2 separate regions of the Homo sapiens genome follow, and region 2 is linked to region 1. A link means that fine-mapping ties the variant in region 1 to the expression of a gene that starts in the linked region. Tissue or cell type: prefrontal cortex. Region 1 holds a variant in brackets; the other region holds the start of a gene. All regions are shown on one strand. Distances are between the middles of the regions.

Evidence for each region. PIP is the estimated chance that this variant, and not a neighbour inherited with it, causes the effect.
Region 2: it holds the start of GYG2, and the variant in region 1 is fine-mapped to the expression of GYG2 in prefrontal cortex (GTEx, PIP 0.94).

Annotation. Positions count from the first base shown.
Region 1 is chrX:2,890,454-2,898,761 of GRCh38, forward strand. No RefSeq gene overlaps it. Among named protein-coding and RNA genes, the nearest start is that of ARSD-AS1, 10 kb to the right of the region's middle. RefSeq lists enhancers at 1,362-2,052, 6,609-7,404, 7,405-8,200. The variant T/A (reference allele first, on the strand shown) is at 3,947.
Region 2 is chrX:2,825,030-2,833,221 of GRCh38, forward strand. GYG2 (glycogenin 2) reads left to right here and starts at 3,901. Exons shown (of 11, transcript NM_001079855.2): 1 at 3,901-3,946; 2 at 5,032-5,166. The coding sequence starts at 5,160.

The sequences.
Region 1 (8,308 bases):
ATGGCAATGTTACTGGAGACGGGTCCCTATCTAGATTCCAAGAGAGGGTTCTTGTGTTGTACCCGAGCGAGTTAGAAAAACGCCACACTTTGAGACGATTTAAGAGTCCTTTATTAGCCGGCGACCGAGAGACGGCTAACGCTCAAAATTCTCTCGGCCCCGAGGAAGGGGCTTGATTAACTTTTAGATCTTGGTTTAGGAAGGGGAGGGCGGGGGGTCTAGTGAAAACCATTTTACAGAAGTAAAGTAGGCAAAAAGTTAAAAGGATAAATGGTTGCAGGAAAGTAAACAGTTCCAGGTGCAGGGGCTTTAAGACTATTATAGACGCGAGGCTTTGGGCGTTACTAATCAGACGAATTCCCGGGAACTGCGGATGTAGCTCGCCACAGTATCTTATCAGTTAACTGCATTCTTGGATGTGCTGGGAGTCAGCCTGCACGAGTTCAGTCCTTGAGGAAGGGGCTGCCAGTGAAAGAGCCAAGGTGGAGTCTGGCTGGCTCTCTTAGCTAAGGGAGAGTCCATTCAGGTGGAAAGAAGGCTAGGTGAGTAGAGGAAAAGGGAGAGTCTAAAAACAGGTTAGTAAAAACCAGGTTGGGCATTACACTTGGATCTTGCGGCAAGAAAGAATTCGGGGCGAATCCATAGAGTAAAGTGAAAGCAAGTTTATCAAGAAAGTAGAGGAATAAAAGCATGGCCACTCCATAGACAGAGCAGCAGCATGGGCTGTTGGTTGCCTTTTTTAATGGTTATTTCTTGATTAGATGCTAAACAGGGGTTGGATTATTCTTGAGTTTTCTGGGAAAGGGGTGCGCAATTCCCAGAACTGAGGGTTCCTCCCCTTTTAGACCATATAGGGTAATCTCCTGACATTCCCATGACATTTGTAAACTGTCATGGCGCTGGTGGGAGTGTCTCTTAGTATTCTGTGCTTTATAATTAGCATATAATGAGCTGTGAGGACAGCCAGAGGTCACATTTGTCACCTCTTGGTTTTGGTGGGTTCTGGCCAGGTTCTTTCATGCAAGCTGTTTTATCAGTAAGGTCTTTATGTCCTGTATCTTGAGCTGACCTCCTATCTCATCCTGTGACTTAGAATGCCACACCTCCTGGGAATGCAGCTCAGCAGGTCTCAGCCTCATTTTACCCAGGCCCTATTCAAGATGGAGTGGCTCTCATTCGAAAGCCTCTGACAGCAAGATTGAAATAGCTTCAGGAGGGCTCATCCAGCTCATGGGCTATTCTGAACCTCTCTTTCCTTCCTTCATTACTGTCTTCTACCCCAGTTCGGGTCATGTGACTTGGTGACTTGGCCTCTGTCCAAGAACACTGAGATATCTTATTTGTCATTTTGTACACTGGTCAGTGATCTTGCATTCAAATGGATTTCTTCTCTCAGAGGGGAGTCCATTGGGGAAGTGAAGGGTCAAAGGCCAGCCAGAATTCATAGGATAGAGTCGGCAGAGAGCCTGGAAAGCGGGAATCTTGTTGATGGCTGGCAGAGGCCAGTATAGGCATTCTGCCTTTTAGGAGGTTGCGTAGAGTCTTGTAGAAGACAATGGCAGCTGTTTGGGCATTCTTTGGCAGTGTTGTGGATTTTGCTGTTGCTATGGTCTCAATGCTTGCCTTGAACATTGTGTGCCTTGAACATTCATGTGTTGAAACTTAATCCCCAAGACAATAGTATTAGGAGATGGTGCTTTTAGGAAACAATTAGGGGTCTAGACTCATCAATGGGATAAGTGTCCTTATAAAAGGGACCCCAGGCCAGGCACAGCAGGTGGCTCACACCTGTAATCCCAGCACTTTGGGAGGCCAAGGCAGCTGGATCACCTGAGGTCAGGAGTTCAAGACCAGCCTGGCCAACATATAGTGAAACCACATCTCTACAAAAAATACAAAAACAGGCATGGTAGCACACACCTGTAATCCCAGCTAATTGGGAGGCTGAGGCAGGAGAATCGCTTGAATCCAGGAGGCGGAGGTTGCAGTGAACTGAGATTGTGCCACTGCACTCCAGCTTAGGTGACAGACAGAGCAAGACTCCGCCTCAAAATATAAAATTAAATTAAATTAAAAATAAAATAATGAATAAAATAAAATTAAAAAGGTGAGCCATTGTGATGGATGGAAATCACGTAAACCTGGACCAATTCAGGCAAAGATGTTGATGGGACATCACGGGTAATAGCCATTCCTCAGAGACTACCTGCCAAATTGCTCCCCAGCTGTCTTAGTCAATTTAAGCTGCCATAAGAAAACACCATAGACTACACGGCTTACCCCAACCAGCATTTGTGGCTCACAGTTCTGGAGGCTGAAGTCCAAGGTCAAGGAATGGCAGATTCAGTGTCTTCTGAGGACCCACTTCTGTTGCCTGGTCCAGGCTAAACTGTAACCATAATAGGTTCGTTGCATGCAGCATGTCTGTACCCCAACTCTCAGGGCTGCAGAAGAGAAAGAGGTTTAATCAAAAAGAAAGAAAGAAAGAAAATGAAAATGAAAGAGACACACAGAAACATTCCACTGGTTACAGCTCAGCGTTTGCCTTATTTGAACATGGTTAGAACAGTTGGCTCCCTGTGAGTGGTTGAAGTATGGCTGCTGGGATTGGTGGAGATGTCGCTTGTTACAGAAGCATACTCTTAAGTTAGGTGATATGGTTTGGATGTGTGTTCTCACACAAATCTCCAGTGTTGAAGGTGGGGCCTGGTGGGAGATGACCGGATCATGGGGGCAGCGGTTTCTAATGGTTTAGAGTTCTCACGAGATCGGGTTGTTTAAAAGTGTGTGACACCTCCCCACTCTGTCTCGGTCCTGCTCCAGGCATGGTAAGACACGCTTACTTCCCCTTTGCCTTCTGCCATGACTGTAAGTTTCCTGAGGCCTCCCCAGCCATGATCTCTATACAGCCCGCGGAACCATGAGCCAATTGAACCTCCTTTCTTTCTAAATTATCCAGGCTCAGGTAGTTCTTTACAGCAGCGCAGGAACAGACTAATACCTTAGCTTTTCAGTCCGCCCGCCTACCTGCCAAGTTAGGTTACGGTTCACCCACAAGGACTCAAGTATGAGAGTACAGAGACATTCTCAGGCCAGATTTTAGTTTGATTTAATAGTTCAGATTCTTCTGCATCCCTGTATCTTCAGAAATAAGGATGTTCCCTACCATTTGATCCAGCAATCCCATTACTGGGTACCTACTCCGAGGAAAAGAAGTTATTATTTGAAAAAGATAAGATACTTGCACATGCATGTTTATAGCAGCACAATTCACAATTGCAAAAATGTGGATCCAGCCCAAATGCCCATCAATCAATGAGTGGATTAAAAAAACTGTGATACATATATATATACACACACACACATATATGTGTATATATATATATACACACATATATGTATATATATATACACACACACCCATATATATGTATATATATACACACACACACATATATTCATTCCTTTTTATGGCTGAGTAGTATTCTATCATCTATATATATATATATATATATATATACACACACACATATATGTGTATATGTGTGTGTGTGTGTGTGTGTGTGTGTATATATATATAGATGATAGAATACTACTCAGCCATAAAAAGGAATGAATGAATGGCATTCACAGCAACCTGGATGGAATTGGAGACCATTATTCTAAGTGAAGTAACTCAGGAATGGAAAACCAAACATTGTGTGTTCTCACTCATAAGTGAGAGCTAAGCTATGAGGATGCAAAGGTGTAAGAATGACACAATGGACTTTGGGGTCTTGTGGAGAAGAGCTGGAAGGGGGTGAGGGATAGAAGACCACACACATTGGGTTCAGTGTATACTGTTCAGGTGATGGGTGCACCAAAATCTCACAAATTGTCACTAAAGAACTGACTCATGTAACCAAATACCACCTGTTTCCCAAAAACCTATGGAAACAAAACAATT[T/A]AAAAATTTTTTAAAAAGAAATTAAGGATGTTTCTTTCCTCTGGGTATTAAGGCACCTTTCAAATGAGGGTGGTTTGACCTGCTTCAGGAGAGAAAGATGAGAGGAAGGTCAGAGAGACCATCCCGCTTCTGCTGTTTTCTCCAATGCCAAGGGGCCATGTTTTGGGGCGGCACGTCCTGAAACCCCTCACAAGCAACATAAATGAACCTGGATTGCTTAAACAACACCATCCAGGCATGGTGAGTGTGTGGGGTCATTCGAAGAGTAAGGAACGTAGAAGAGCTAGTGTTATAAAATGGCGAAATCAAGAACAGCCTGTGGACAGCATGCAGCGGTGGCTTTATGGGATTACTGTTGTGAGATGCTCAGGGTGAACGTGGGAGAATCCAAGCCTGAGACCCTGGCTCCTCCTTGGCTTGGATCGGGGAGAGCAGAACACCTTGATCTACTATCCCACCTTGTCCCCTGTAGGGAAGTAGAAGAGCCATAGCCACGTGAGGTGATGTCCGTAAAAGAGCGAGATTGCTGTGTGACATACAGAACAAAGCCCACCGCCACATTCTCCCTTCCTGATTCTTCAGCCTGATCAGAATGTGGCTTTGTTCATAGACTAATGGCTAAATTGGCAAAATGCCCCAAGATACGGAGTTGCAGTTGCGAAAGAGCCACGATTGCTGTGAAGATTGTAGAAGCTGTGATCTGCAAAGCACGGAGAGCAAGGCCTGGCTCATGTCAAGGACTCAATAAATGTCACAGCTGTACTCATTATTTTTACCCTGAGGCCACATCCTGGCACAGGGAGAAGGGTGATTATCCATTATACGAGGTCTGGCTGTGGATTGGGATGGCAGTGCATTAGCTGTTTCTTATGTGCATATAGAGAAGTCTGCTCAGGGGCTGTGTCTTTGCAAGCTCATGCCCTCTAAGCAGCTGCTTTAGAACAGGTGAAAATTGGCCAGGCACAGTGGCTCATGCCTGTAATCCCAGCAATTTGAGAGGCCGAGGTGGGCAGATTGCTTAAGTCCAGGAGCTCGAGACTAGCATGGGCAACACGACAAAACCTCCTCTGTATAAAATATACAAAAATTAGATGGGCGTGGTGGTGCACGCCTGTGGTCCCAGCTATTTGGGAGGCTGAGGTGGGAGTATCACTAGAGCTTGGGAGGCAGAGGTTGCAGTGAGCAAGATTGTGCCACTGTACTCCAGCCTGGGTGACAGAGCCAGACCCTGTGTCAAAAAAAAAAAAAAAAAAAAAAAAAAAAAAAAAAAAAAAAAAAAGCCAAGTGTGTGGCTCATGCCTGTAATCCCAGCACTTTGCAGGGCTGAGGTGGGCAAATCACCTGAGGTCAGGAGTTTGAGACCAGCCTGGCCAACATGGTGAAACCCCGTCTCTACCAAAAATACACACAGAATATTGGCCAGGCATGGTGGCGCATGCCTGTAATCCCAGCTGCTCGGGAGGCTGAGTGAGGCAGGAGAATTGCTTGAACCCGGGAGGTGGAGGTTGCAGTGAGCTGAGATCACCCCACTCCACTCCAGCCTGGGCAACAGAGCGAGACTCTGTCTCAAAATAAATAAATAAATAGAACAAGTGGAAATAAATGAGACGTCCCCCATCCCAAATGTTTTCGTCCCAAATGAAAATGAGCAGAGGCCACTTATTCAGAGCTAGCCCTAGTAAGGGAGTCAGACATCACCCTTTGCATTTTGGCAGGGACCGAAAGACAAGTAGAGGAGGCTTTATAGTGTCAGACCTCAGGATACACGTCCCCAAACATGACTGCTGGCAACCAGAATATACCAGCCCAACATACCCATTACTTTGAGCTGAAACACTGAGAACCAGCTAATACAAGAGGAGCTCTTTACTTGCTCCTCGACAGCTAAAAATAAAGTACAAATTTCCCCTTTGAAAAGAGAAATTTAGGCCAGACATGGTGGCTCACGCCTGTAATCCCAGCACTTTTGGGGACTGAGGCAGGTTGATCACCTGAGGTCAGGAGTTCGAGACCAGCCTGGCCAACATGGTGAAACCCCGTCTCTACTAAAAATACAAAAATTAGCTGGGTGTGGTGGCTCATGCCTGTAACCCCAGCTACTCAGGAGGCTGAGGCAGGAGAATTGCTTGAACCCACGAGGTGGAAGTTGCAGGGAGCCGAGATCATGCCACTGTACTCCAGCCTGGGCGACAAGAGTGAACAAAACTCCATCTCAAAAAAAAAAAAAAAAAGAAATTTTTGTTTTGTTTTGTTTTGTTTGTTTGAGATGGAGCCTTGCTCTGTCGCCAGGCTGGAGTGCCGTGGTCCGATCTTGGCTCCCTGCAACCTCCCCCTCCCGGGTTCAAGCGATTCTCCTGCCTCAGCCTCCCGAGTAGCACAAGCACGTGCCACCACGCTCAGCTAATTTTTGTATTTTTAGTAGAGACGGGGTTTCACCATGTTGGCCAGGCTGGTCTCTATCTCTTGACCTCGTGATCTGCCTGCCTCAGCCTGCCAAAGTGCTGGGATTACAGGCATGAGTCACCCCACACCCAGCCGAAATTTGGTAAACTCAATCAAGTTTATTTATTTATTTATTTATTTTTTTAATGGGTCGCGCTTTTGGTGTCTTATTTTCCTAACCCAAAACGAAAAAGACTTTCTCCTCTGTTTTCTTCTGCACATGTTATAGAGATCGCACTTACATTTGGGTCTCTGATCCACTTTGAGTTAATTTTGGTGCAGGGTTTTCCATTCACGGAACATGAAGTTGGATTTCTAATAGGTCAATATATGAAAAATTTCCCGCAAAGTTTTTCTTTTCTTTTCTTTTTTTTTTTTTTTTTTGAGACTGTCACCCAGGCTGGAGTACAGTGGTGCAATCACAGCTCACTGCAGCCTTGACGTCCCAGGCTCTAGAGATCCTCCCACCTCAGCCTTCCAAGTAGCTGAGACCACAGGTGTGCACCACCACGCTTGCCTGATTTTATATTTTTTGTACAGACGGGGTCCCACTGTGTTGGCCAGGCTCGTCTCGCACTCCTGGGCTTGAGTGATCCTTCCACCTCGGTGTCCCAAAGTGCTGGGATGATAAGCATGAGCCACTGCACTCGGCCAGTTTCTAGTTTGGATATTTGAGTGGACTTCCCAGCCCCCACACAGCATGCTCATTTCGTGTAAGATTGTGAGAGAGTGCGAGGAGAGAAAGAGCATGCAGCCAGCGTTGGAGCTTCGGAGACATCCCGGGCAGGAGCTTCCCAGGGTCTCATTTGTTCTGTCTCATGGTTGGCACACGAAGGACAGTGAGAGGAATCTTGGTTTCAGGGGGCCTCAAACCAGACATTTGAGGAGGTAGGGGAGGCGGTTGCCACTCCGCTCATTCAGTGCATCCAGGCTGTCTAACTGGTTAGGCCACTTGCAAATGTGCAAACCTTAAGTAAAGAAACAGACTCTGGGGTCAGGGGGGAGGTTTGAACTGTAACTAGCGCGTCATAAATCCCAGCCCTTATCTTGAACAAGAGTCAAAGACCGGACTTGAAGGCATCCCCCAAGATAAAGGTAGGCCCTCTGCAGGGCAGCTGTAAGTCAGCTCTCCTCCACCCCTCTGGCTGGCCCCCTCCTTATCCGAGTCCTGCTTCCTTCCTCTTTAAATCTGCAGACAATGCTGCTTCTCTGCAGGTCTCTGCATATTCCCTCAGCTCACAGACCGGCTGCATACTTGGTATTTTCAGGGTTAGGTTTGCAACACATGACTGGGGAAATGCATGAAAAGGAAATGATGCAAGAATTCACCGCGGACACCTTTAGGTGAGAAGGAGATGTGACAAAAAGTCTCTGCCTGGCCAAACCGTAGCCAGGCTCCTGAAGCCCCTCCCAGGCCCGGTGGTGCGTTTCCTTATAGAATTAGATTTCAGCAAAGTACCGGCTAAGTCAGTTTGGCGAGAAGCCACCATTCTTGATATCATGTTCCTCGTCGTCCACCACCCCTGGTTGATGTTTAACCCCCTTGGCTGGCTTTAACAAGCCAGGTTGGTTTAGCCAGGACCCGCTTCACCTCTGATGTTTCCTTTTAGTGCTTTGCCATCTGTACACCCGCTGCCTGCCCCCGTGGCTGTACATTCCCACTTGCCCTTGCTGTGTTCATATTGGAAGCTGAGCCCAGCCTCTCCTGCACTGTGAACCGCCATTGCAGTGGTCCCTGTACTTCACACGATAAGCCTGGATAATGTCTTCGTTATCTTTTTGGTGATGCTTTCCCAAGTACGAGGTTCGTGCAAAAGTAATAACTGCAATTACCAACCTAGTATCACTGAATAGTTTTTTCTTTAACAAAGGTTTTGCTCCCGGACGAATGAACGAGTGCTGGCTGCTTGTTCTTGGGGC
Region 2 (8,192 bases), 65 kb before region 1:
ATCATCATCATCATCAATCTCTTATCTATTTATCATCTATCTCCATATATGTATGTATCTATGTATCTCTATATCTATGTATCATCTATTTATCACCTATCTATCTCTCTATCCTATCTATCATCTATCTGTCCATTCATCCTATCTCATCTATCATCTACCTATGTATCATCTATCATGCATCTACTGATCTATTTATCTATCCATTATCTATCTATTTATTTATCATCTATCTAAACAGTGGCTTACAGCCTAAGAATGATTCTGCCCCTGCTCCTACCAGGGGACACTGTGCAATGTTTGAGGTCAGTTTTAATTGTCACTACTGGAAAGTGTGCCAATGGCACCCGGCAGATGGAGCCCAGGGATACTGCTCAACACCCTACAGTGCACAGGATGGGCCCACCTCAGAGAATCCAGCCCTGAATGCCACAAACGCCTTGGTGAAAAACTCCAGTAGTAACTTCCATCTAACCTTGGGAAAGGGATCAGGTTGACAGTCACATCATTCTGAACAGTCCAGGAGGCAGGAGCTGTCTGAGTCTTTTGTAAATGCCCCTCTTGTTAGAACACTCATAAGACCCTTTCCCGTAGGAGGATCCTCCCTTACCCAGAGCAAGAGCACAGCACTCCACGGTTTCCCTGCTGGAGCAATGAGAAGCCAACACAGGCCCCATGGAACGAGTTGGCAGCACAAGGCTGTGCAGACATCTGGCGACTATTGGAGCCAACAAGGAGAAAGCATAGAAGCTGGGAGAGTCTCCCCTTCCTTGCACAAGAACTGAGACTTCCTTGGAGGGGCCAGCTTCATCCTGGCATTTCTCTTCTTTGGGGCTGGCATCCAGAGGATAGAAAACTGAGGTCGTACTGGCAAAGGGGGCTCCGCCGGGGCACTTCTTGGCTCCTAAGGATTTCCCCAATGCCTCAGGGGCTGGACGGATTTGAAAGTGGACCCCCTATGGAAAATGATACAGAGATTTCTCAAAGAACTAAAATTTTATCTACCAGTTGATCTAACAATTCCACTACAAGGTATTCACCCAAAGGAAAACAAGTCATTATATCAAAAACACACCTGCACTCATATGTTTATTACAGCACCATTCACAATAGCAAAGATACGGAGTCAACCCAGGTGCTCATCGACAGGTGATTGGATACAGAAAATGTGATTTATGTGTACAATGGAATCATATTCAGCCATGCAAAAGAATGAAATTCTATCTTTTGCAGCAACATGGATGAAACTGGAGGCCATTATCTTAAGTCAAATAACTGAGAAAAAGAACGTCAATTACCACGTGTTCTCACTCATAAGTGGGAGCTAAATAATATGTCCACATGGACATAGAGAGTGGATTAATAGACACTGGAGATACAAAAGGGTGAGAGAGTGGGAGGATGGTGGAGAATGAGAAATTACTTAATAGGTACCATGTACACTATTCAGGTGATGCTTACCCTGGAAACCCAGACTTCACCACAACTCAGTATATCTATGTAACAAAATTGCACTTTACCCCATAAATTTACACAAATAAAATAAAATAAATCAGTAAAATTGGATATGTCAACCTGTTTAAAACAAACGAATGCAGAAAAAAAACATGTTGTAATAACATATAAAAATAAATAAAGATGGCTTCTTGATGTTTAATATGCCCTGCAGATATCTTACAAAGCCCCAGTAGTCACGAGTTAAATTCTTGCCTGTAGCCTGCTGGAGGTCAGAGATAGCCTCCACTGTTTATGTACAGCTCTGGCCCCATCTATGAAGTAGAGCTAAAAACACCACCGATACCTGTCCCCAAGGCTGAGCTGATGCAGGAACAGCCCTCAGCACAGTGCCTGGTATCCACAGACCATCGATCATCCTAGGTATTCATCTAGATCAGGAAGGCCTGACTGTAGCTTGCGTTGATTGCCATTGACAGTTTCGGCAAGAATCTGGGTTCCTTTGCTGTCTCTTTCGGATGGACACGTGAAGGCTCTTCTCCAAGTAAGTTCACTCATTCGACTCATGCACTCATACATGCATGCACTCACACCATCATCACTCATTCAACTCATACATGCATGCCCTCACACAGTCATCACTCATTCAACTCATACATGCATGCCCTCACACAGTCATCACTCATTCAACTCATACATGCATGCCCTCACACAGTCATCACTCATTCAACTCATACATGCATGCACTCACACAGTCATCACTCATTCAACTCATACATGCATGCACTCACAGTCATCACTCATTCAACTCATGAACTCATACATGCTTGCATTCACACATTCATTGATTCATTCACTTAATTCACTCATGCATGCATGCATGCATTCACACTTTCACTTATTCATTCATGCATCCATTAACTTGTCCATGCATTCAATTCATTCATTCACTCATACATAATACATTAATTCCTGAAGTGTATGCAGTCTTCACTCATTCACTCGTGTGTGTGCATTAACACACATGCTAGTTTGTTCAGCTCATTCCTGTACTCATACATATTTATTCACTCAGTCATTCGGCCACGTATTCACTTGTCATGTATTCTCTTCATTCACTCACACACACATCCATTCCTGTATAAATGCATGCCTTCACGTGCTCAATCAATCCTGCATGCATGAATTCACTCACTCATGCAGGCATGAACTCACTTGTTCACTCACTCATTCATGCACTCACTCATGCTTGTACGAATTCGCTTATTTACTCATTCATACACTCATGCAGGCATGAACTCACTTGTTCACTCATTCGTGCACTCATGCATGCATGAATTCACTTGTTTACTCACTCATACATGCACTTATACATGCATGAATTCACTTCTTAAGTCATTCATGCACTCAATCACGTATGAATTCGCTTGTTCACTCATTCATGCACTCACTCATGCAGGCATGAATTCGCTTGTTTATTCACTCATGCAGTCACTCATGCATGCATAAGTTCACTTGTTCACTTATTCATGCACTCACTCATGTATGCATGAATTCACCTTTCACCCATTCATGCACTATGCATGCATGAATTCACTTGTTCACTCAATCATTCATGCATTCAACTCATTCATTCACTCATTCATAGATTCATGCCTTCACGCATGCATGCATGCATTCACCTATATTTTCCACACAGTCACACCTCCATTCACGCATCTATCTCTAAATTCATTCATACATGCATTGGCTCGTTCATGCCTTCAACTCATGCATTCATGTGTGAATGCATTCATTCCCTCCTTGGCGCAAACATTGATTCAATGGTTCATTCATTTCCTGGCCTGCTCATTCATGAGTAGTTGTTTGTTCATTCACGCCTCACATGCATTCACGCATACATGCACTCACGCATACATGCACTCACCGCGTGCGTACAGCCACTCGCTCGCTATGCATTCAACAGCTGAAGCCTGAAACCCTCATTTATTCTTTCTTTCGTGCACTCATTCATTCATTCAGTTTATGCGTGTAAGTACGCGCACGTGCATTTTTCATGCATTCGACAAGATCGCGTATAAGCCCTGCCTTCTCCCTCTGGGAGGCTTCCAGAGCGGCCTCCACTCTTGCTGCGCGCTGGCCTTGGGCCCAGGGCCTTAAGTCATCGCAAACGTTTACTTTGGGGCTGGCTGATTAAAGGTTAAATGTCCAAACCTAGAAACCGCCGACTGCCGAAGGGGCCGCGGCGGGCGAGGGGCGGGGCGCGGGCGTGGATCGCAGCCCCCGGCGGTTCCCGGGTCTCTCTTCCCGGCAGCCGGGGCTGGGCACCAGGCGGCGCGCGGGCTTGCGGGCAGGGGCTGCAGGGAGGAGGAGAGGACCCGCGCCCGCGGGGGCTGGCGGAGGCGGGGCCGGGCTTCCGGACAGAGGCCAATCGCTGCCCTCGGGGCCTCCAGCGCCGGCTCTGGGCCGAGGCAGCCAGAGCGCGGAAGAGGTGCGGGGGGCTGTAGGGGGCTGCAGGGGACCGTGGGCAGTGGAGGAGGCCTGGGCGCGGCGGGGGGCCGGGGGGCGCAGAGGCTGCCCGAACGCCTAGGAGGTCTCGAGGGTGGGTGGCGTACAGCGGGGCGGGGGCGCAACCCAGAGGCCGAGGCTGGGGGCTGGGGGAGGGGCGCCGGACTGGAGTGCAAAGGAGGGGCGAGGGGCGCAGGGGGCTGGAGGTCAGAGGTTGCCCAAGCGCGAAGGAGGGGAGGGGTGCGGGGCGCGGGAGTAGGCCAGGAGCGCTTAGGGGTGAGTGCGCCGAGCCAGGGCACCGAGTGCTGGGGAATACAGGCCGTCCAGGCGCGGCGGGGCGCGGGGAGACGGAGGCTGCCGGAGTACGGAGGACAGACGGGGCGCGGGCGTAGGGCTGGGAGGCTTGGGGAGGGGGGCGCGGGCCCAAGGCAGAGGCTGCGGGAGCGCGGGGCAAGGGAGAGGTGCAGAGCGTGGAGGGGGCTCGGGGGCGCTTGGGGAGGATGGGCGGCAGGCCGGGTCGGGGAGGAGGGGCGGCGAGAGGCGCAGGGGTAGGCCGGGGGGCTGCACTGGAGTGACGAGGGAGGGGGCACCTGGCCGGGGGGCGCGGGCAGAGGCAGCCCAAGCTCGGAGGAGGTGCAGATACTGGCGTCCGGGAGCGCAGGGGTGGTCCAGGGAGTGGAGAGGGGTGACCGGGGGGCGCCAGCTGGGGTGGAGGAAGAGGATGCCCAGAACTCCAAGCAGGTGCGCGGGGCGGCGGGGCAGCTGCTGACACCGCTGAGGTCGGGTGGTGTCCCGGGGGCGTTGTCGTTGCTGGGCGCATGGGTGTTAAGACGCAGCGGGGTCGCAGGTGACTGTGGGGAGGACAGGGGGTCAAGGGGCCCCTGGCCAGAGGGCACGAGGCTGACCTGGAGCGCCAAGGAGGAAGTGCGGGGCGTGGAGGTCGCAGGGGCATCGGGGGAGGCAGGGGCCCCGTGGGGCGCAGGTGACATGGAGTGGGTAGGAGGCCGGGGGTGACACTGGCGGGGCCTGCAGCCGAGGGTGTCGAGACTGCCACGCTGTCGCCCCCAGGCCTGGAAATCCACGCGGATTCCCGGAGACGGCGCCTCTGCTCTGCGGGTTCGTGGCGAGGAAGTCCACCCACTGCTCCCGGGCGCAGGTCTGCAGGTCCGCGCCCACTGCCCGCGGCGCCACTGACCATGTCGGGTGAGTAGCTCAAGCTGCTTCAGTTCAGCCTGCCTGTTCCTACTGGCTTGGGTGACAGATTGGTCTGCACTGGGGAGAACCCCACTTTGACCGCAGGATTGCCCCAAACCCCGAGTCTCCCCCTTACTGCCTCGCCCAGGTCTCTCTGGGGCTGGAGGGAATGGAGATACCAGCCTCAGCTGCTGGGAGGGGGTGATTTACAGCAAGTGAAGGGGGCCTTGGGATTTCACCAGTTTCCTTTTGTAAAATATAGTCCTGAAACTTTCAATGGGCTTGTTTCTTGGGAATAGCATTGAACTGCCTGAGACTGTCACTGCCTGGAAGGCCGATGGGAAGAAGTCTGTTCTCCTGAAATGGCCCTAAAGCTCTGGGAAGAGGCTGCCTTGAGTTCTTAGAACTCAGACCACGGTTTTAATTTCTGTTTCCAGTACAGATACAGGGATGGCCCGGCTTGGTGGCTCAGGCCTGTAATCCCAGCACTTTGGGAAGCTGAGGCGGGAGGATTGCTTGAGGCCAGGAGTTTGAGACCATCCTGGGCAACATAGGGAGACCACATCTCTAGGAAAAAAATTTAAAAATCAGCTGGGCATTGCGGCACCTGCCTGTAGTCCCAGCTACTAGGGAAGCTGAGGTGGGAGGGTCCTGAGCCCAGGAGTTCCAGGCTGCAGTGAGCTATGAGTGCACCACTGCACTCCAGCTTGGGTGACAGAGTGAGACCCTGTCTCTAAAAAACAACAACAAAATAAGAATCCAGGTTAATCCTCCTGCAGGCAGAGGGCTGGCTGGCAAGAATGGCAGGAAAGGCCTGCCCCCGCCAAGGACCGGTGAGCCCCATCTCCCTGCCCTTGGGTTTTGTGGACATCAGATAGACTGGTTGACTTAAGAGGCCTAGATATGTGAACAGAGTGTAACCTCTTCCCATAAGAAAGATGCTGGTTCTATTTTCTATCATTAAATCATTAAGACACCTCCTTCTTGTACCAGACCACACTGGATCATTCTATGAGTGCATTTTATGTATTTATTTTTAAATGTATATTTTTTAAATTTTGTAGAGACAGGGTCTTGCTATGTTGCCCAGGCTGGTCTTGAACTTCTAGGCTCAAGCAGTCCTCCTCCTTTGGCCTCTCAAAGTGCTGGGATTACAGGCACGAGCCACCACGCCTGGCCATGAGTGCAATTTAAAACACACAAACAGAACAGATGACTTTTTTATTCAGAGGAGAGATTTGGTAAATCACAGAGCTGCTTCTCTCCTGTTTGTTCCCACTCTGGACTTAGAGATGAAAATTGTCGGGGCAGGGATCTTAAGGGCTGTTTTCATGAGGTGTACTGGAAGAGTCTGTTCCAAGGAATGGCAGAAAAGATTCTCTGTTCTAGGGACGCGTTTGGAGCTCTCTAAAGTGAAAGCCACACATTTCCCCAAGCCTGCTAGGGTCTGTATAATAGCAGCATTCAAGACGGACATTCGCATACATCTTGGTCAGCCTCGTGCCAGAAGAGAAGACTCAACTCTTTGCAGAAAACAAAAACCACCTTTGAGTAGAAAAGGGCTGAGAAGGAAGCTGCTAAGGTTATTTTGGGGGGTGATCAGAAGATTCCTTGAGTGCAGGGGGGCAGGCAAGGGGTAGAAAGAAACTGTTGTCACAGATTCATAAAATTCTCAGCCACTGTAATCTCCAGACTGGACTTGATTTTGTGACAATGTCTCCTTTTTGTGGGCTGTGGTGCAGTGACAGGTTTTCTTGCTGTTTTTCCACTCCATGCCGTTGCTGAAAGTGTCCGCCGCAGTGGCACTTGGAGTGGAAACTCCCTCTTTGAATGCAGTAGCATTGGATAATTGTGGATGTTCTCTGGCGTCTGGCGCCGCACCAGGACTTGATCACCAGTTGTTTCTTCAAGGCAAGGCGATGTGGAAGCTAAGCCCTGTCAATCAATGTTTCATCTTCTGTTCTATTTCAATCTGCTGGTCTGTCTTTGCACTTTAGATGGGTTTTACAGTGTCCTGGATGGGAAGCGGCTAACCTTCAGGAGGTGCACATTTTTGTTCCAAAGCAAAAGTCTGAGTCTCGGATCCCTTGTTGCTGGAGAGAGCTCGTGTGCCAACTGGTGTTGTCTTGTCATTGTGTGACTGTGGTCAATATTCCCTCCACTCTAAACCAAAGAGAGAAACAGGGTATCCAGTAGTTCCATAAAACTCTCACTCTAAATGCAGCCCTGTCTGCATTCTCTTTTGTGTTTGAGATCAAGGTGGGTGTGGGCAGGGCTGGTTCCTCCTGAGGCCTCTCTCCTGGGCTTGGTCCTCACAGGGTCTTCCCTTTGTGTGTGTCTGTGTCCTAATCGCCTCTTTTTTTTTGAGATGGAATTTTGCTCTTGTCGCCCAGGCTGGAGTGCGATGGTGCAATATCGGCTCACTGCAGCTTCCGCCTCTTGGGTTCAAGCGATTCTCCTGCCTCAGCCTCCTGAGTAGCTGGGATTACAGGTGCCCGCCCCCATGCCCGGCTCACTTTTGTATTTTTAGTACAGATGGGGTTTCTCCATGTTGGTCAGGCTGGTTTTGAACTCCTGACCTCAGGTGATCCACCTGCCTTGGCCTCCCAAAGTGTTGGGATTACAGGCGTGAGCCACCACGCTTGGCCTAATCTCCTTTCTTATAAGGACACCAATCCTATTGGATCAGAGCCCACCCTAGTGACTTAATTTTATCTTAATCTCTTCTTTAAAGACCCCATCTCCAAATACAGTCACATTCTGAGGTCCTGCAGGTTATGATATTCATATATGAATTTTGGAGGTGCACAAGTCAGCCCATAATAGGATAACTCATTTATTTGAATACTACTGTGTTTTTCTGCTGGGGCTGCCATAACAAAGTCCCACAGACTGGGCGGCTTAAACAACACACATTTACTCTCCCACAGTCTTGGAGGCTGGAAATCTGAGATCAGGGTGTGGGCAGGGCTGTTTCCTCCTGACGCCTCTCTCCTTGGCTTGTAGATGTTGTCTTTCTCTGTATCTCCACAAGG